Linked DNA regions of Homo sapiens: region 2 is linked to region 1. Evidence: fine-mapped expression QTL. A gene starts in region 1. The other region holds a variant in brackets. All regions are shown on one strand. Distances are from middle to middle.

Region 1 (9,684 bases):
GAGTGGAAATCAGACGGGACCCCCTGCAGCTTCCCTGACCACGCCACTGACCAGCTATCTGGGGAAGTTTACTGTGAAGGGGTTTCTGCCTTTAGCAATGGGGTTCACTAAGGGGGTTCCCGAGGCCCAGGGCCAAGGCACTCCCACCGCCTACCTTAGCACAGGGTCTCTGCAGGACTGCGGGAGCCAGCGCTCCTGCCGCCCCTCTTGCCCCTCAGACCTTGCATCCACAGAAGCACAACCCAGCCAAACACCACAGCCTTCTCCAGAGCCGGCACTGTCCCGGCAACCAGGGGTGCCCCAGGCTAGCTCTTCTACCTCTGGGGCACCACGGACTCCCCTTGGCCACTCTTGGGACTTTGGTCCACGTCCTGAGCCACTGACCACGGCCAGTCTCTCTTTTTATATGTGCAGAAAAGTGTTTTTACACAAACTTTCTCATGGTTTGTAGGTATTTTTTTATAACCCCAGTGCTGAGGAGAAAGGAGGGGCAGTGGCTTCCCCGGCAGCAGCCCCATGATGGCTGAATCCGAAATCCTCGATGGGTCCAGCTTGATGTCTTTGCAGCTGCACCTATGGGAAGAAGTAGTCCTCTCTTCCTTCTCCTCTTCAGCTTTTTAAAAACAGTCCTCAGAGGATCCATGATCCCCAGCACTGTCCCATCCTCCACAAAGGCCCACAGGCATGCCTGTACTCTCTTTCATTAAGGTCTTGAAGTCAGGCTGCCCCCTCCCCAGCCCCCAGTTCTCTCCCCACCCCCTCACCCCACCCGGGGCTCACTCAGCCTGGCAGAGGAAGAAGGAAGGCAGACATCTCCGCAGCCACTCCTGGGCCTTTTATGTGCCGAGTTACCCCACTTGCCTTGGGCGTGTCCACTGAGCCTTCCCCAGCCAGTCTTGTTCTCAATTTTGTTTTGTTTTGTTTTGAGACGGAGTCTTGCTCTGTCACCCAGGCTGGAGTGCTATGGCTCGATCTTGGCTCACTGCAACCTCCACCTCCCAGGTTCAAGCAATTCTCTTGCCTCAGCCTCCCGAGTAGCTGGGATTACAGGTGCATGCCACCATGGCTGGCTAATTTTTGTATTTTTAGTAGAGATGGGGTTTCACCATATTGGTCAGGCTGATCTGGAACTTCTGACCTCAGGTGATCCACCTGCCTCAGCCTCCCAAAGTGCTGGGATTACAGGCGTGAGCAATCGTGCCCAGCCTTGTTCTTAATTTTGTATCATCCAGTCATCGCTAATATTACACGCACCTTCTCACTTAATCCTCACGACAAGCCTGTGAGGCAGATGCTCATTGTTCCCATCTTGATGAAACTTGAGTCTCAGGGAAGTGAAGTGACTTGCCCAGGGTCACTCAGGTAGAGTTGAGATTCAAACCCACATGTGGCTCCAAAGTCTGCATCTGGATTTGGGGGTGTTTTTTGGCATGGCACCCTCACCTCTCTCCCTGCCTGTTTTCCCCAAAGTGGAAAGGAAGGCCTTTCAAACCAGAGTGTCTCACTCCCCTCTGACCTCCAGACCAGATGGGGCATGAGCCAGCCAGCTCAGCCAGGCTCCCTGTGTCCTGGGAGGAAGTGTCCCCATCCCCCATGCCCCTTATGGGGAGGGAGGGCGTCTGATGCTCTCTCTCTGCCTCCCCCCCCATCCTGTCAGGCACAGGTGACGGGGGCAGCCCATGCGAGCCCTTCTCCTGCTGCTCTGGGAGGGCCAGTTCCACATTGAGCCAGCCTGGTCCCATGGAAAATGATGGCCTGGGCTTTCTGAGGCCTTATCTGATGCCTCTGCAGTTCATGTCCCCCACCAGGCCTCGAGGCTCAGGGTGGGAGAGGGCCCCGGGCTGCCCTGTCACTCCTCTAACACTTCCCTCCCCTGTCCCCAACATGCCCTGTAATAAAATTAGAGAAGACTAACTAGAGTGGTTCTAAGTGCTTTTCCTTTGAGTGGCATGTTGCTCAGCTCCGTCCTTCCATGGGGTGGCTCCCTCTTGGGGCAGAGTTGAGCTGGAATGCTTTCAGGTACTATCTTACCTATCGAAGGCTTGAGTGACTTGCCCAAAATAAGTTTTACGATAGAACAAGTGGTAGGACTTACTGTTTTGAGAATCTGGTGCTCTCTGTTGAGAGAGATCTGGGAGTTAAAATCATTGTCTTAAAAGCAGAGCCTGAGACAGGCATGAAGTGTTTTTTTGTTTGTTTGTTTTGTTTGTTTGGTGGGGCTGGGGGGGAGTGTACTTCCAGAAAAACCAGTAAAAGAAGGAAGGAAGCAGAAGAGGGAAAGGAAAAATGCTGAGCAGGAACAGTCTCAGCCCAGCCTTGGCCTGACCCACAGTGGAAGAGCTGTGGGGCATAAACCACACTGCAGAGCTGAACTGGCCTTTTGGACCTTTTATCAGTCATTGGCTTGGGAGGTGAAGGAAATTCCCAGGTAGGGAGCTCCGTTCTTCCTGCAAGGGGATCTGAGTGGGACACCAAATCAGCATCTACACCCAGGACAGACAGCCAGCGTGGACTTGCATGATCCGCCATCGCACAGGAGGGAAAGGTAATGATTAAAACACAATGTGCCATCCTGGGAAGAGGGCCAGACCTGGAAGTCAATCTTCAGCGTTTGAGATATGGTGGAGATCAGGGTGGACGACCTCTGAGGTCTCTAGCCAGGACCAGTCACATAATTTGCACAGCCCCGTGCAAAATGAAAACACAAGAACCCCTATTAGAAAATCATTTCAAGACGGCAACAGCAAAGTACTAAACCAAGTACAGGATTCTGAGCATGCGGCCCGTTGTGACTGCATGGGCTGTTCACCCATGAAACCAGCTCTGTCTCTGGCAGAGGGGACTGCAGGCTTTGGAACCAAGGAACTCCAGCCTGGGAGCCAGGCACAGCCCGAGGCTGTGCTGAAGGCAGAGAAGGAAATGTGACCCAGGAACTGCATGCCACAGACCAAGACAGTGAGGGCTGGAGCACAAAGAGGGAGTGGGTTAGTGAGCCTGGAAGGAATGTGGCTCTTCCCACAGAGCCTCTGGAGTCTTGTACATCAAGTACCCATCTAATAAGCAAACTCATTGAATATACCGTGTGTGTGTGTGTGTGTGTGTGTGTGTGTGTGTGTGTGTGTGAGAGAGAGAGAGAGAGGCTAAAATAGAAGAAAGCTGCAAAGTGCTGGAGGGCAGGAGTCAAGAGGAGAAAGAGGCCCATTCTGCGCATTCTTGCTGGAGAGAGGCTTTGCAAAGGGACCTGCCTGGGAACCAAGAACTGGGAAGGGGGCCAGGGTGAGGATTCTGAAGTTTGCCCTAGGGGTAGGAGCATATTTTAGGGGTCGAGCGACACACCCCTGGGCTTCCAGAAGTCGGATGGGGCTAAACGTGGAGAGCAACAAGCAGGGAGACGCGACGAATACCAGGCCGAGGGATCTCCAAACGCAGCCAACTCCTCCCGGGGACACAGACCCCGCGGGGGCACGGTCTCGATGGAGGGGAGTGTGCTCCGCGGTATCGGAGCCTACAGCCGCCAGCGCCTCGCCCACTCGGGGGCCGCGCTCCCCTCGCCACCGAGCTGGACCCGCCTCCTGAGGGTGCGCGGAGGTGCGCCTCGGTGCGCAGCTGCGGAGGATCGCTTCCGGGGGGCGGGTCAGCGGAAGTGAGGGCGGTTGAGGCTGGGCGGCCCAAGGTGGAAGGAGGGGCCGTGAGGTGAGAGAGTCCGGGAGCCCGAGCTTGAGGTGAGAAAGGTTCTAGGGAGGCGCGGAGGCGGGAGCGCGACCTTCCAGCCCGTTAGTAGACTGGGTCTACGTGCCGGGCGCTGTGCGGAGCCCGCAGCTCCTGTTCCCGCGCGAGTTCTCGCGGGAGCCGCAGCTGTCCGTCTCACTTGGCCCGGGGGAAACTGAGTCCCCGAAGGGTAGTTGCTCGTCGGAGTTCCCCAGCAAACAGTGACCAAGCCAGACCTCAGGCTTCTAGTTTCGGCTTCGCTGCTTGACGGGCCGGGCTGCCCCGCCGCGCATTCTGAGACCTGGCCGCGGCTCGGAGGCTTCCGCGCACTCGGGTCCGGGTCCTGTGGGTCCAAGGGCCGCTGGGCAGGCGGCGAGCACTTGGCCGACCTTGGCCCAGGTCGGGTCGTCTGCCGCGGGGGAGGGGCGACTCGCCCTGGCGGGTCCCCGCGGGGAGAGGGTCCGCGCGGGTCTCCGGCCACTGCTGCGCGCGGCAAAGTTTCACTGAGCGCGGCGGCCTCCGTGGGGGCCCCCGGGACCAGGGGTGCTGAGCAGGGCCCTGCGCTGGAGGAGCTCCCGTTCTCCTGAGGGGACGCCTGTCAGCAGACAGCAACTGCAGCCTCCGGAGGGCTGCGGGGCGCAGAGGTGACAAGACCCACCGGTGCTGCCGGCGAACCGGGGGAAGATCTTCTAGCCAGTGACACTTGGGGGCGGGGGTGACAGCTGAGTTGGTGTTCCCCTTCATTCGTTTAGTTCAGCGCGTTGAAGCGCTCACTGTGTCCTAGGCAGACACCGTGCTGTGCGCGGGGATCACAGTTATCTAGTTCCTCTCGCGAGGACTCCGAGGGACAGGCAGGGTGCTGCGGAGCGCACAGGAAAGGACCTGACCCTGTCGCAGGGAAGGAAGGTGATGCTTAAGCTGAGCTCTGAGGAATGATGAAGAATGAGCTCGGCGAAGGGGGTGCTGGTGTTTGATGCAGGGCTCAGAGGTGGGCCCAGTGTTGGGGGTTGAGGGCCAGTGTGGCTGGAGGGCAAGGGGGAGAGCAGGAGGGCTGGCTGCGAAGCGTGCAGGCCTTGGTGCTCAGTGAATGTGGTCTAGAGACGGCAGAGAAAGATGGGTTTGGGACTGATTGTGGATTTTATCCTGTGTTGGCTCTAGTAAGCCAGTTTTAAACGGATGAGCGATGTGATTAACTGTGTTTGGGAAGGATTCCTCTGGCTGTGTGTGAGGGTTAGGCCCGGCTGGGTCTTTGGAGGTAAGGTCGGAGAGGAAGTGGCAGTAAGCACCGTTAGTGCAATTTGTGGCCGACACGGACATTCAGCACAGAGCCTGGCACACAGAGGGACTCTGATAATAAAGGCTTGAACTGAGCCGAGAAGATGGAGCCCACGCAGGAGGTGGCAGGACCTGGACCAGGCTTTGGGTGCTTTGCACTGGCATGACCACTGAGTGACCTTAGACAAGTGCCTTCCCCTGTCCAACTTCCTTTCCCCATGTGTATCGTGAAGTGAATGACACCTCGTCTCCCAAGGGTAGAAGAGGGGACCCTCCACAGGAGGTCTCCAGAAAGAGCTGCTTTGTCAGTCTAGTCTATCTCCCATTCAGAGCCTGTCCAGGGCTCCCCAGTGACCCGGACCTCATGACTTGCCCCCTACTTTTGTAGCTTTATCATGCTCTGCTCCTCTTTCCATGTCCTTCACCTTCTTGTGCTGGACCTGTGCTCTTGCTGTTTTGTCTTCATTTCCTACTCCCTCGCAACTTACTACAGGGCACTAGGGCCAGAGCTCTGACCTCATCTGGCCACCTGCCTAATGCTACTCAGCCTTTGCTAGAAGTATGTATTCATGTCCTATCACTCTGCTGGACAGCGAGTTCCTTGAGAGCATGACTGTGTCTTACTCCTTCCATAGCCCCTACGGTGCCCAGCACAAGGCCTGGCACAAGTGGGTACTGTTGGTGTTTGATGAACAAGTGAATGAACGAGCACACTGATTGCATCTGCTCACCATGCAAGGACTGCTGTGAAGAGCAGTCAGATGTCACCTCACCCATCTGTGTCATGTTTTAACAGTTCATTAAGCACTCAACCCCATTTCACTCATTGACCCTTAAGGTAGCCTCCAGTGGCAGCTTTTCCTGTCTCCTTTTTCCAGATGGAAAAACCAACATTCAGAAAAGTTAAATAACTTGCCTGTAGCTACAAAGCCAGAAGGTGGCTGAGCCAGGATAAACTTTTTTGGCTCTTTTTCTCTGTAGCTCATGAGACTGAGATTGGCATGAGCTGGTGTTCGTTCTCCTATTTTCTCTGATCTCTCCCTTTGCAAGGGCCCAGCAGTGCTTTTACATCTCATCTTCAAGAATGAATCCTGGGCTTGGATAGTACTTATAATTTGGCTAGATGAGCTTTGTAGCTACCAAGGATTCTATTTGCATCTTTAGAAGTTTTGCCTCAAGAAACCTGAGAGCCCAGGAAGGCTCTTGGGTTGGCCAAGCTCACTAGGCAAATCTTTTTTTTTTTTTTTTTTTTTTGAGACGGAGTCTCGCTCTGTCACCCAGGTTGGAGTGCAGTGGCGTGATCTCGGCTCACTGCAAGCTCTGCCTCCTGGGTTCACGCCATTCTCCTGCCTCAGCCTCCCAAGTAGCTGGTACTACAGGTGCCCGCCACCACACCTGGCTAATTTTTTGTATTTTTAGTAGAGACAGGGCTTCACTGTGTTAGCCAGGATGGTCTCGCTCTCCTGACCTCGTGATCCGCCCACCTCGGCCTCCCAAAGTGCTGGGATTACAGATGTGAGCCACTGCGCCTGGCCGCAGATCTTTAACAGAACCTTTAAGAGTCTGGACTTAGAGCTAAGTGTTGGGTGAGGGCAGCCTCTTGGGCTGGTTTTCTCCCCTGTGAAGTCATGGCTCTGCAGGGCCTGGTTTTTTGGGGCTTGTGTGGTGACCATTAAATCCCCACTGTGGGGGGTTGTTTCACAAGAGGGAAATCTGGTGCTCCTCCAGATGGCCTGATATGAAGGAGTCACGCCTCCCGCCTCCCGGAGCTGCCCAGTGGCTGCCTTGTCCTTCAAGTGCAGGAGCTGGTTCAAATGTCAGGAATGGAAGCCACTGTGGTAAGGGGCATTCCCAGGGCAGGGGTATGGTGGGGAAGGTTGGGTGCTGGGCCTGCTGAAGTACTGTAAAAGGTTCTGAGACTCTCCAGTTGAGCACTCCTTTCTCCAGAGGCCTGGAATTGGAGCAAGGCCACCGTTTCACTCCCTCCCCCTAAGAAGAACCAACTATGATCCTGGGGCACTTCAGGAGTCAGTGTATGTCTGCCTTTCTGTACAGAGGACGGGAAGGAAAGCCTGGATAATCTCTACACTCAGCTACTTCCTCTCCCCTTCCCTGACCCTCCCAACATTGACTGCCTTAGCAGCAGCAGGTATTCCCTTGGGTGGCTGGCCAGGGTGTAGGCTGGCAACTGGGGAACCTGCCCTCACTATAATTGAGAGTTGACTTGCCCCTAGAGAGTGCCCTGTCCCTAGGTTTGTGGAATTCAGTCTCCACAAACCTAGAGAGGAGAGGACAAGGACAGTAGTTGGATTCATTCTCTGGGGTTGTAGCTGTCTCCGTCTCTTTGCTCCAGACCATCCCAATCTGGCAAAACAAGCCACATGGGGCTGCTCGAAGTGTAGTAAGAAGAATTGGGACCAACCTACCCTTGAAGCCGTGTGCCCGGGCGTCCTTTGAGGTGAGTATGTTGGAAGGGCAGGAGAGTAGAGGCTCAGACAGTGCTGCTTCTGTGCCCCAAACCCCTTGGTACTGCCCAAGTAGGTTGTTTCCTGGTCACTTTTCATTCTGTTATGAAATATTTGTTAAATGCTTATAAGATATCCTGGTCACTGTGTCCTCCTGAGTGCATACAAACCTGTGACCACAAGGAACCTGACAGGTCCCCCACATGGGACACTGACTATTGTGATTTTTGAGTTGAACTCTGCTTTTCTTCACCAGCCCTAAGAATTGACCATGTAGCCAGTATTTTTATTTTATTATTTTTTGAGATGAGGTCTCCCTATGTTGCCCAGGCTAGGTCTTAAACTCCTGGGCTCAAGCAGTCCTCCTGCCTCAGCCTCCTATGTAGCTGGGATTACAGGCACAAGCCACCATGCCCAGCTCCACTATTTTTAGTGTTTCTCTGAGGCCATAATTCCTCAGCCTTCTCTTTTTGGCCAATCTGGGCATCCTTTACTGGGGTGCTTTGGTCTTACCTCTGTGTCTAGGGATCCTTTAGCACCCACTCAGCAGCAGAGATTCCTACCTGGCCCAGGTCTCTTGAGACCCCTTCTGTGGTAGAAAGCTAAGTAGCATTTATTAGTCCCAGCTGCCTCCCTCTAGGAACTAAATGGTTAAGCACCAGCCCCAAACTATATGGTTCAGATGTGTGCATTTGGAGAGCTGGGATACAAAAGAAATACTTGTGCTTTCTACCCACACAGAGGAGATAGAAATATGTGCATGAAAGGATGTGGGCCCAGGTAGAAACAGAAATGAAGGAGCCAAATCTGTATAAAAGATGCTAAGAAGCAGAGTCTGTAGGAACTGGATCTGGAATTAGAAGAGGTGTCAGGGTTGGTATTAGGGTCAGGAATGGAGTTGGAAGTGTCGCAGGGGTAGGGGGCAGGAAAAGCTGTCCCAGTATTCAGATTGCCAGCTATCCAGAATTGTCTAAAGATCCTGGGCAGGAACTGGTCCTAACTTGCCTCAGAAGCATCAGAAAAAAAAAAGGGAGACAGCTAGGGAGTGTGGCTCACTGCATAGAGGCCGTCCCCACACTTGGCTATACCCTCTTCAGTTCTTTGGCCAGATGCTGGGCAGAGACAATCAAGGGCACAGGCTCTCACAGAGCAGGAATGTATGTGAGCAGTATTGGTAATACTAGATAACATTTACTGAGCACATACTATGTGTCAGGCACTGTGCTGTACTTTATATTTGTTTACTCATTTAATTGCCAAGAGCAAAGGAGCATTCAGGGCTAATCAGGAAAACAAATGGAGGCTTCCCCCAAATGCCCTATTTTAGCACTAGTTCCTGGGTCACTGGAAGTTCTTCTCTGTGTGACCTTGGAGTATCACTTAACTCCTGTGAGTCCCAGGTTTCCTATCTAAATGCAGGAGCGATCAATCCTGGATCCATCTACCATACCAAATAATTTGTAGCAGAAACAGTTGAATCTTACTTGTGTGTAAATATGCATTTATTATTATTATTAAATTACCTTAAATATTATTTAAGGGACTCTTACCAATTTATTTTGAAAATTTAAGCATATGAAAATATTAAAATTATGAAAAGTAAAAGGAAAATAAATTACCTATAATTACATAGTAATAATACAATAACTATTAATGTCTTAGTGTAGTCCTCTTTTTCTAGATGGATGTTTTTTACTTTGTTGTAATCACAGTCAACATGACTGAATCCTAATTTTTCACTTTACTCAACATCTCTAGGTTGAGGAGCTATTTTAAGAAATCCTATTATGGTTCCTTTTGTATAATCATTTATTTTTATTTAAATCTAAATATATTCAAATTTTCAGGTTTGTTTAAAACAGCATTGCTGTAACAATGTAGATCTCAATTAGCTATACAGGATTATAAAAAGCTAGTCAGGAAAAATTTCCTATTGCTGTAACAGGTTGTGGATGACCTTGTACTTGTATTTTCACCAGAGGGCACAGTGGTTTTAGACAGTTGCCATCTCTACTAAAAGGTGACTCAGGCCTTTTCCACTGAAGACACAGAACTGTTTGTAATCCCATAGACTCTCATGTGTCTTGCCTGTTTTTGTTTTTGAATGTGGCTCTGTTGTCCACGCTAGAGTACAGTGGTGCAATCTCAGCTCACTGCAACCTCTGCCTCCCAGGTTCAAGCCATCTTCCCACCTCAGTCTCCTGAATAGCTGGGACTACAGGCGTATACCACCATA
Region 2 (11,641 bases), 29 kb before region 1:
TTCCATTGTGTGCTGTAGCCTACTTTGCTGATCTAAGCCCCTGTTGCCAGGCATTTGGGTTTGTGTCCATCTGGGATTTTAGTTACAAATCACAGAAACCAACTCTGTCAACTTAAGCACAGAAAGGGATTTACTGAAATGCCATGGGGTGGCTTATGGAATCTCAGGAAGGAGTAAACAGCCAAACCTCAATAAGGGCTAGAAAGAGGACTTGGCCAGGGACCCCTTCAAGAACCAGGGAAGCCTCTCTAGGCACCACCATCAGGAGGGCTGAATCCAAATGTTTCCAGATCCTGCTGTGGCTCCTTTCCATGTGGCCTGGCCTGGGTCACATGCCCGCCCCAGCCAAGGGCAGAGCCAGGCATCTTGGCTTGGCAGACCCCCTAAGATTACCCTGTGCAATGGGTGTTGGGCTGTTCCCTAGAGAAAAACATGAGATTCATCACCAAAATAAGGGATCTGCAGGCTGCACAGGCAAAAACAGCAGGACTGTTTACAGTTAGCTTTGATTTCTTCAGTATTATACAGAGAGTTATGAAGAGCATACTTAACCATCCTCCTTTTCACTTTTGTCCAATTATGTCCTCAGAATAACTTCTAGAATGTCTCTCTGTCTCAAAGCCACTTTGCAGTTCCCCAAGCCCCAGGCTCCCCCGCCAGGCCCGTGCGGCTGTCTACCTCTCCTCTCCTGTCCTCTGCTGTATTGCTGGGAGGAAATTGTAAAAATGAATATTTTAAAATGTATCCTCCAGGAGGGCCCTTGCAGGTGGAGAAATATCATCCTTTTGGCAACTTAACTCCATTCCACGGATAAAAATAAGTACGACTCAAGACAGGCCGAGAGGAGAGAGGAATTAAGGGATGACTCATCCTCACTGAAGGTAGGAGAGAGCTTTGCAAGCCACAGAATCTGAACACCCAAACCTCTCACTGAAGGTAGGAGAGAGCTTTGCAAGCCACAGAATCTGAACACCCAAACCTCTCCCTGAAGCAGCCCTCTCCTTCCCCAGCTGGGGGTCAGCCTGTGGCTGCCAAGCTCATTTTAAGCCTCATCTGCGCCCTCGCTGAGGATGGAAGCACCATTTGCACCTGCTTCCCTCATAGAAGGGTGTGATGTCAGCTCCTTCCCAGAAAGCTTCATCAACACCCAGCTCCTGGCACTGAGGTCTGCAGAGCCTCAAGGCCCCGGGAAGGGGGACGAGCAGGGCACAGTCCTTTTCTAGGTGCCTCCCTTTAAATGACTGGCTATTTGGTCAGACCAGCCAAATGCATTGGGAAGAAAAGCAAAAATGGAAAATCTGATTTAAAGGCAGCATCCAAGATGGATGCTCAGTTCCGTTCCCTCTGCTTTGAGGAGGTGACCCCACTGTGGTTTGAGAAAGTGCTAGAGATGAATGGGCCAGCTTCCCCCAGCGTTTCCCCTGGGGGCCTGTCCTTGGAAGTATGGTCATTGGTCATGTGGCACAAAGATGCTCGGCCCTCTGTGACTAATGCTTAATTACACCCTACTGGAGGAAGGGGGCTGATTCTATTTTTTGTATCTGAAAATATCAGTTTGGTTTCCTATATTTGGAGCACTGTTTTGTTCCTGCTCAGCCTGTCTCTTAAGTCAGAGCTTCTCAAACGTGCACAGGAATCACCTGGGAGCTTGTTAAAATCCAGGTTCATGTTCAGCGGCTCTGGCATGGAGCCTGAGATTCTGCCTTTTTTTTTTTTTTTCCTGACACAGGGTCTTATTCTGTCACCCAGGCTGGAGTTCAGTGGGGCCATCATAGCTCACTGCAACCTCCATCTGCAGGGCTCAAGCAGTCCTTCCACCTAGCCTCCTGAATAGCTGAAACTACAGGTGTGCCGCCACATCCAGCTAATTTTTTTTTTGTCGCTACATTTCTCAGGTTGGTCTCAGAATCCTGGGCTCAGGCTATCCTTCCGCCTCAGCTTTCCAAAGTGCTAGGATGGCAGGCATGAGCCACTGTGCCCAGCCAGATTCTGCTTTTCTCTAACAAGCTCCCGGGAGATGCTGATGCTGCCAGTCCTTGGACCACACTTTGAGTAGCAAGACCCCAGTTGGTGGCCACTGCCTTGGTTTCTGCCTTTTATTTGCATCCCTGGAGCTGTAACTGCTCCAGAGTGGAGTAGAGGGGCTCAGGTATTAGGATAGCATCTATAGATACCTTGACTGCAAAGCGACCTACCTTAAAACAGGTGTGTGCCTGCCACCTATGTCAACAGCTCTCCATTCTTCAGGACAGCCAGGATAAGACAGGAGCAGGCTGCTGGTGGCTTAGAACAGTGGCGTCCAATAGGGTCACCCCATGTGGATCTGGAATACTTAAAATGTGGCAAGTGCAATGGAGGAACTAAACTTTTAATTTTATTTCCTTTTTTTTTTTTTTAATTGACCAGAGTCTCGTTCTGTCACCAGGCTGGAGTGCAGTGGCGCGATCTCGGCTCACTGCAACCTCTGCCTCCTGAGTTCAAGCAATTCTCCTGCCTCAGCCTCCCGAGTAGCTGGGACTATAGGCGTGCGCCACCACACCCAGCTAATTTTTTTTTTTTTTTTTGAGACGAAGTCTTGCTCTGTCGCCCAGGCTGGAGTGCAGTGGCTTGATCTCGGCTCACTGCAACCTCTGGCACCCGGGTTCAAGCAATTCTCCTGCCTCAGCCTTCCAAGTAGCTGGGATTACAGGTGCATGCCACCACTCCAGGCTAATTTTTGTATTTTTAGTAGAGACAGGGTTTCAGCATCTTGGCCAGGCTGGTCTTGAACTCCTGACCTTGTGATTTACCCGTCTCAGCCTCCCAAAGTGCTGGGATTACAGGCGTGAGCCACCGCGCCTGGCCAATTTCATTTCATTTTAATTAAATTTAAAGAGCTATGCATTGCTGCTGGCTGCTGTTTTGGACAGTGCAGAATTAGAACTCAGAAAGCAACTACCCTGTTGGTGCTGCAAAGACCTCCATCACCTGCACCACTACATAAATCATGTTAGCAGAAAATACATTGTTTAGGGACTCAAGGATTCCCTTGAACATACCTGGTTATTTTTATACTCATCCCAGCCTGTTTTCTGCACAAGCCTCTGAGTTTGGTTTTGTTTTGTTTTGTGTTTTCTTACTCACTGTCTGCAGCAGGGCATGCAGTGGGTAGGCTGAAGGCAAGAGAGGCAGAGGGGTGCGACAGGAGAGGACAACCCATGTCGGTTTCATACAAGCACAACATTTGAAACTGGTGGACCTGTGTTCAGCTCTGCCCTGCCCTTTTCCAGGACTGTGTGGCCTTGGGCAAGCCCCTTAGTTAAGCTCCTCTGAGCCTCTGCTTTTCCATCCATGGAAAAGGAAAGTGCTTTCAAGGGTTAATCGAGCCTCCCCACCCCACCCCTTGTAAGAACTCAGTGCATCCTAGCAGTGATTGTTATGATGTGAACCTCTTTGTAAACTATAAAACCTTGTGTAAATGTGAGGCAAAACACTGCTGTCAAAAATTCTTCTTTTTAAACAAAATGCTCTGAAACTTGGGGGAAACCGCATCAACCAGGCCCAGGAGACAGACCAAAATCTCAAAGCAATAAATCTGAACGTTTTCTGCTTTTCCCATTGAGGAAGCATTTTGCCATTAGCTAGCCCTGAATCTACAGAAATTGGGAAACTGGGATGAAGATTTGTTGACTGTCCAAGGTCTTCCAGGGACCCGTCTGGTGGTGGGGGATGCTCGGGCAGGGGCCCAGGGCTGAGGAAGATGCCGAGAGCTTGCCCAGGAATGTTTGAGGTCCAATTAGTGTTTCCTCTTCATGGAGTACCTGATAAATCCTGTCTACAAAACTTTGGAAGGGAGATGGGCAGGAAAAGATGGCACCCCCATTTATAGAGGAGGGAACTGAGGCCCTAACAGGCTTGCTCCAGGGTCAGGCTCTGCAGCCCTAGCCACCTCCTGGGTCAACTCCTACATTGCTGATGTCGTACTTTCACCTTCTCCACTGTTGAATTAACCCTAGCCCAAATTTCTGGAGCATCTGCTCTTCCAAAGTCTGACTCAATAGAGATGAGATTCCCAGCAGCTGCCCGAGGTTAGAAAATACCAGCACACTCCTTTTCCTCTGGCAGTTATCCTAGCAAAATCATGCTCCCAGAACCCAGATAACCCAGATCCACGATGTCCTCGCCATCCAGGGACCAGAGCAAGGACAGAGTGTAAACAGCAGAGAACGGAGAAGATGTGGGCCAGCGCCATACCCCTCTGGGCCACTTCTCAAAGAGAGAGACCTTCAGGGATAATTCCATCGTCTTGCACAAGTTACAAAATTTCAACTGTGGCTTTCCCAGGTCTTAGGACCTGCATGGACCACCTTCTCCAGGAATTGAGTTCGCACGGAGATCACTAGAGATGGAGAGGTCAGGGATGGCCCCTGGGGAGCTGACATTTGTGACAGGCTGTGCAAAGAGCATTCCAGGCAGAGGGAACAGTGAATGCAAAGGCTCAGAGGCAGGAAGTGTTGTTGCATCTGAGACACAGAAAGGCAGTAAGCGAGTGGGAGGGTCTGGGGGGTCAAAGGAAGTCGGCAGAAGGGGTTCCATCCCTCAGTGCCTGGTGGGCAGGTAAGTACTTGCTGTGGTTTGAATGTCCCCTCCAAAACTCATGTCGAAATGCAATTGCCTTTGGATGGTGTTAAGAAGTGGAACCTGGCTTGTTAAGAGGTAATTAGACCATGAGGGCTCTGCCCTTGTGAATGCATTAACGTGGGTTGTTCTGAAAGCCGATTCAGCCCTCGCTTGCTTGCTTGCTTGCTTGCTTGCTCTCTGGCACTCTTCTGCCCTTCTGCCTCTGGCCACAAGTGGACGCAGCACGAAGGCCCTTGCCAGATGCAGGCCCCCAACCTTGGATTTCCCAGCCTCTAGAAATACATTCCTTTCTTTATAAATTATCCAGTATGTGGTTTTCTGTTATAGCGACATAAAATGGACTAAGACAGAGTTTAATTTTAATCTGAGAGCAGCAAGAAGCTAGGAAGAGTTTAAAGCAGCACATGAGATGACCCACTTTACATTTCTGAAAGTTTCCTCCGACTTCTGAGTGGAGAGACCTAGGAATTCTTTTTCCTCTCACATCTGTCTCAGTGGAAAACCATTCTCAGATTCCTAAGCGGAAGCTTCTGAAGCCTGTGCCCCAGGAGTGCCGCGAGGCCCGAGTGCCCTCTGCCCTGTGTGCATGACCTCTCCTCTGCTTTTTTACTCCCTGGGTTTTGAGGAGCCTGGGAGACTTCAAGGGCACCAGAAACCTTTCCTCTGACCCTTCTTCCCTGTAGCCGTGGATCAAGCCTCCAGGCTGCTGCCCCCTCTGTTTCTACCACTCCTTTCAAGCGGGCCCAGCTGCGCTTTTAAAAAATGGAAGCTGCTTCCCAAGGTGGCCCGGCTCCTTCTCTCGCACATGCGCCAACGGAGGCTGTTTGTGGGGCCTGGGGCCTTCTTTTCATTCTTCTTTGAAACCTTCAGGATTTGTGGCAGGTATGAAGTCAGGGAGTTCTGGGTCTCTCAAAAGCACATATTGCTGAAACATAACATTGTCTACCTTCACCCCTCCTCCATGG[G/A]TAATTCCAAGCAGGACACTGAGTGCTCCGCACCTGCCCAGGTTCTAACTAAGTCTGCCTGGCTGGGTCACCTTCTGCTGTGTCATTCTCCGTGTGCTTCCTGAAGGGTCCTGACTCCACACGGTTCCCCACCTATGATCACCATGTGGTCTGGACACCTTCCCTGTCCACAGCTCACCTGATCACCAAGGGACCACCCCACAGCCTTGACTGGTGCCACCAACTATAGCTCTCAAGGTCCTCCCAGGGGTCATGGAGCCATTTGGATCCCTAATATCTCCCGATCCCCTTAGCCTATCTTTGGAGCAGTCAGGAACTATCTGCCTCCTCTTCCCTTTCATCTGTGTCCACGTGTCCCAGCTGTCTCCTGAGAAATCACTCCTTTCCTCCAGCCCAGTCAGCATGTCTGCCTTCATCATGCTGTAATTTTCCAAAGCTCCAGTGTTTCAAACCGGTGTTTCAAGGCAGTTCACTTGAGGCCAGGAGTCCAAGGCTGCAGTGAGCTATGACTGTGCCCTAGCAAGCCCAGCCTGGGCAACAGAGTGAGACCCTGTCTCAAATAAAATAAAATATAAAATAAAATAATAAAATAAAATACTACTGTTTTCCATGGCTCCGGTGTTAAGCCTTTGTTGTGCTTTAATTTTCCGTGGCTCTAGTGTTTTAAACCAGTCCTATTTCTCCTTGAGTTTTTAAGTGAAACTTTAAAAAAAAATTTTTTTTGAGATATAATGTAGATACAGTAATGTGTAAAATGCACTATTCTTTTTTTTTTTTTTTTTTTTTTGAGACACGATGTCACTCTGTCGCCCAGGCTGGCGTGCAATGGCGCAATCTCAGCTCACTGCAAATTCCGCCTCCCAGGTTTAAGCGATTCTCATGCTTCAGCCTCCCGAGTAGCTGGGACTACAGGACCACACCCGGCTAATTTTTGTATTTTTGGTAGAAACGGGGTTTCACCATGTTAGCCAGGTTGTTCTTGAACTCCTGACCTCAGGTGATCCACCCGCCTCAGCCTCCCAAAGTGTCGGGATTACAGGCGTGAGCCATTGCACCCAGCCTAAAACGCACTATTCTTAAATGACCAGCTCAAGGAATGTTGACCTATATGCACGCTCATATGACCACCTCCCCAGTCAAGATCAAGACTATTCCAGCACCCAGAAGGCTTGCATGTGCTGCTTCTAGTCAATACCTGCCATCCCCAGAGCAAACCCTATGTGGACCTCTTTCACCATCACCTAATTTCAGGCACAGACATTTCATTCTTTTCATGGTTTTTTGCATTATAAACATTCCACTGAGGCTGGGTATAGTGGCTCACACCTGTAATCCCAGCACTTTGGGAGGTCAAGGCGGGAGGCTGGCTTGAGGCCAGGAGTTCAAGGCTGCAGTGAGCTATGATCATGCCATAGCACTGCAGCCAGGGCAACAGAGTGAGACCCCATCTCAAAATAAAATAGGCTGGGTATAGTGGCTCACAACCATAATCCCAGCACTTTCGGAGGCCGAGGTGGGCGGATCACCTGAGGTCAGGAGTTAGAGACCAGCCTGGCCAACATGGTGAAACCCCATCTCTACTAAACATACAAAAATTAGCCGGGTGTGGTGGCAGGCGCCTGTAATCCCAGCTACTCGGGAGGCTGAGGTGGGAGGCTCTCTTGAGCCCAGGAGGCAGAGGTAAGAGGATCAGTTGAGCCTGGGAGGCAGAGATTGCAGTGAGCTGAAGTTGCACCACTGTACTCCAGCCAGGGTGACAGTGAGACCTTGTCTCAAAAAAAAAAAAAAATCCTCTGCATTTTCTGTCTTAATTTATATGATACAACTTATAACCACTTAGCTCCTGTCTAATAAGGATGCTCACACTTTCTTGTCTGGTCATTATGAAGCCCTCTTGTACCCATTTGTGGTAAAAAAAAAAAAAACCTCTGAAGTGCACAACCAAGATCAGAGATGATGAAATAAAGCCTCTCAGATGCAAGCTGAGCTATGCCTCTCCCTTGTTTGGGTGACTAGCTCATCCCAGTTAGGGCTTTCTTGCTTGTAGGACCGAATATCCCACATCCTCGGTGCTCCATCAGTGTCAGTCCTGAGCAGACCAGGGTGGCTGACCCCCCAGCACGGTTCCCTCCTTGGCCCTGGACCCAGTTCAAAACACACAAGACAAGTGGAACAGAATTCAGGCCAGATCATCCGGTACCATCTGCCTGTGCCTGACACTCACCGTTGGAAAGGCCCCGAATGTCAAACTCTTTTTTGTGGCTTGTGTGTGGAACTTGGCCGTCTTTACATTTTCTCCCTCAAAATCACTGGAGAGCTGGTAAAAATGTCCCTCTTTCCCCCAACCAACTGGGGGTTGGCCCCAAGCATTGGTCTCCTTCAAAGGCCCCAGGTGACTAGTGGGCAGCCAGGCTGGGTAACCAGGACCTCTGCACTCGTGATGCTGAGACTAAATCTGTCCATCTGGCAAAGTCCCGGGGGCATTTACTGACCCCGGGAAACAAATCTCTCTCCCAGCCTGGACAGTACGAGAGCCAAGCCAAGCCTGTCATGACCTCTAACGTTAATCTATTTTTTGGCTAATCACAGCCACAGCTCCATGCCTGTAAATCCAGCCAAAGCCACTCAACATTCCAAGACACGGCGGCATCTGTGGCCACATAGGCCAAAGGCGGCTTCTCTTCTCTCTCTTCAATGATCTCATTGAATCTTGTGGCTTTAAGTGCCATTTTTAGACTGGCAACTCCCAGATTTATAATCCACGCCCCCCTTCCCTACCGTTCATAGCCCCATAGTCATACACACACAACTGCCTCCTTGACACCTCCGTGAGGGTGACTCTCAGGCATCTTTTTTTTTTTTTTTGAGCTGGAGTCTCCCTCTATCACCAGGCTGGAGTGCAGTGGTGTGATCTTGGCTCACTGCAACCTCAGCCTTCCAGGTTCAAGCGATTCTCCTGCCTCAGCCTCCCGAGTAGCTGGGACTACAGGCGTGCGCCACCACGCCCAGCTAATTTTTTGTATTTTTAGTAAAGATGGGGTTTCACCATGTTGGCCAGGATGGTCTCGACCTCCTGACCTCATGATCCGCCCACCCCAGCATCCCAAAGTGCTGGGATTATAGGCGTGAGCCACCACGCCCAGCCAGCTCTCAGGCATCTTAACCTGGCAGACTGGACCAAGCCTTCTCCCCAGCCGGGGTCCCTCCAGGGTGCCTCATCTCAGGATGGTGCCACCAGCTACCCAAGCTCAACCCATGGCTGATGCTGGTCTTTCCTCTTGCCGTCCACTTCTGACCCATCCGCAAATCCTGTCTGTGGCTCTGCTACACTCATATATCTTGTCCACGCCTGCCCAATCCCTGCCATCTTATGTCTGGGCGACTGCATTAGCCTCCTGTCTCCCTCCTTCCTCTGTCCATCCCCTAACTCTATTCTCTACCCAGAAACCAGAAAGATCTTTAAACAAACATCAAAACCAAGAGGCTTTACTGGGATATCATTTACATGCCATAAAATCCACCCACTTCAAAGATGGACAATTCATGTTTTTTTAGTATATCACAGAATTGTGCAAGCATCATTATAATCTAATTTTAGAACATTTTATCACCCCAGAAGAAACTTTGTACCCATTAGCAGTTACTCCCCAGCCCCCTCCTCCCGGTCTCCCACTATAGCCCCAGGCAACTGCTAATTTAGTTTCTGTCTCTCTGGATCTGTGGATTCTGGACATTTCACTGAATGAATCACACAAGCCGTGGTCTTTGTGTTTGGCTTTTTCCACCCAGCTTAAAGTTGCTAAGGTTTATTATTGCCCACTAATACTTATCAAATGGATACACCGCATTGTTTATCCATTCATTGCTGGAAATTTGGGTTGTTTCTGCATCTGGGCTATGAGAAAGGTCTTTTAAAAAACAAGTCACCAGCCGAGTGCGGTGGCTCACTCCTGTAATCCCAGCACTTTGGGAGGCCGAGGTAGGCGGATCACTTGAGGTCAGGAGTTTGAGCCCAGCTTGGCCAATATGGTGAAACCCTGTCTCTACTAAAAATACAAAAAGTAGCCAGGCTCGGTGGCCGGCACCTGTAATCCCAGCTACTCTGGAGGCTGAGGCAGGAGAATTGCTTGAATCCGGGAGGCGGAGGTTTCAGTGAGCCTAGATCGCGCCACTACACTCCAGCCTGAGCGACAAGAGCAAGATTCCATCTCAAAAACAAACAAACTAACAAAAAACCAAGTCACACATTGTCACCACCCTGCTTAACACCTTATAATGGTTTCACATCATATCTAGAATGAAGTTTGACCAAGTGCCGTGACTCACACCTGTGGTCCCAGCTACTTGATAGTCTGGGGTGGAAGGATGCTTTGAGCCCAGGAGTTCAACGTTGCAGTGAACTGAGATCGTGCCACTGCACTGCAGCCTGGGGGACAGAGTGAGACCCTGTCTCAATAAATAAATTGAATGAAGTTTGTTGCCGAGGCCTGCAAGATTCCGACGTCCTGTCCCAGCCTCTGTCACCAAGCTTTTCTCTTCCCATAACTCACTCTGCCTTCTGTGTGTCTCCTGGACATACCAAGCTTGTTTCCACCCCAGGCCTTTGCACCGGCTCTCCCCTCTTCTCCGTGCCTGGGACGCTCCTTCCTCGATTCTTCTCATAGCTGGCTGCTTCTTCCCGTTCCAGGCGCAGTGTATGTGTCACCTCCCAGCTACGGTGCTGATGCCTGCCTGTGGCACTGTGCCACAGTGCCCTGTCTCACTCCTTCACACTTACCTTTCTCTGAAATTACCTTGTGTGTCTGTCATTTCCTTCCTCCGAGTAGAATATTCAGCCCCCACAGAGGAAGTGCCTTGCCCGTCTTCTATAATACTGTGTTCCCAGGGCTGAGAACAGTCCCTGGCACACAGCAGGTATTTAGTTTGCGGAGAGGCCCACGTGGTCCGGGCATGCTTAAGCAACTCCTGCAGTGGCACCTGTTTCCCCCAAGTGATCCTTTGTTCTCAAATGTTGGTCCTATTATTGGCTGCCAAGATGTTAGGGTTGGGTTTGGGGAAAATCACTTGCCTCTCTAGGGTCCCAGATGAAGAGAAGAAACACAAAAAACAAAGCCAAATGGCCCTCTTCCTGGCTCACTGTCGCCGGTGAAACTGGAATGGAAAATCCTAATTTGATTTGATTCCCTGGAGGGCAGCAGCGCCCCCTGCGGGAAGAAGGCCTTTCCTGGTGAGTTTACCCCAAAGAGACAGGAAGCAGAAGAGAGGATGCTACTAGGAGGCAGGCAGGGATGTGTGTGTGTGTGTGTGTGCGCGCGCGCGCGTGTGCGTGTGTGTGTGCGCGCGTGTGTGTGCGCGCGTGTGTGTGTGTGTGTAGGAGAGAGAAAGAGAGAGAGACACACACACATCAGGGGTGTGTGTGTGTGTAGGAGAGAGAGAGAGACACCAGGATTCGAGGCAGTGACCCTGCCCCTACTTAAATGTGGCTGCAGGCAGGTCAGGCTCCCTCCTCTTCTCATGGGTGGATGGAGTGGCCTGGAGTGCTTACACCAACACCCTCTGCGCAGGGAGGTGGGTGTGGGTGCCCCCAGGCAGAAGCTGGGACCCAGTAGGGAGTCTGAAGGGTGCTGCAGTGGCTGAATGTCCCTCTCTTCTGATGCCTCCACATTGTCTCAGTGGTAAAGTCCAGGCTTTTCACAAGCTGGCCAGCGTGCCAGCCCAACCTTCCTGCCTCCTCCTCCTCCCTCTTCACACTTCCCCCCCGGGTCCCTCTGCTCAAATCCACTGGACTATATTCTCGAGACGCTACGGATACTCCATCGAGTTTCACATCACTGGGCCTTCACCTCTGCTGTTCCCACCCTCTGGAATGATCTTCCTGGGTGCTATGCCTGGTGAGCTCCTGAAGTCAAGGTCTGGCCAGACCTCTGCTCTGGGAAGCCTCTTCTGAGCCCTCCTGATAGTCAGGGGGACCCTCCTCTGTGCACACCCCTCTCAGAGCACTTACCCCTCGAGAGGAGGGTTGCAGTATCCATTGACTCATCTGGAAGAGCAGAGAC

Direction of the effects. Positions count from the first base shown, and alleles are read on the strand shown. Sizes are in standard deviations (SD) of each study's normalised expression.
As copies of G replace A in region 2, the expression in ileum of the gene that starts at base 3,647 in region 1 goes down (small effect, 0.33 SD a copy in GTEx).

What was found. PIP is the estimated chance that this variant, and not a neighbour inherited with it, causes the effect.
Region 2: its variant is fine-mapped to the expression of MTFR1L in ileum (GTEx, PIP above 0.99).

Annotation. Positions count from the first base shown.
Region 1 is chr1:25,816,308-25,825,991 of GRCh38, forward strand. MTFR1L (mitochondrial fission regulator 1 like) reads left to right here and starts at 3,647. Exons shown (of 7, transcript NM_001099625.2): 1 at 3,647-3,722; 2 at 6,712-6,821; 3 at 7,337-7,441. The coding sequence starts at 6,798. It overlaps SELENON (selenoprotein N), which reads left to right. Exons shown (of 12, transcript NM_206926.2): 12 at 1-1,914. It overlaps LOC646471 (a long non-coding RNA gene), which reads right to left and starts at 7,299. Exons shown (of 1, transcript NR_024498.1): 1 at 3,647-7,299. RefSeq lists enhancers at 1,690-2,190, 3,833-3,972, 4,353-4,442 and silencers at 3,433-3,622, 4,073-4,242.
Region 2 is chr1:25,786,223-25,797,863 of GRCh38, forward strand. No RefSeq gene overlaps it. Among named protein-coding and RNA genes, the nearest start is that of SELENON, 8.2 kb to the right of the region's middle. The variant G/A (reference allele first, on the strand shown) is at 5,586.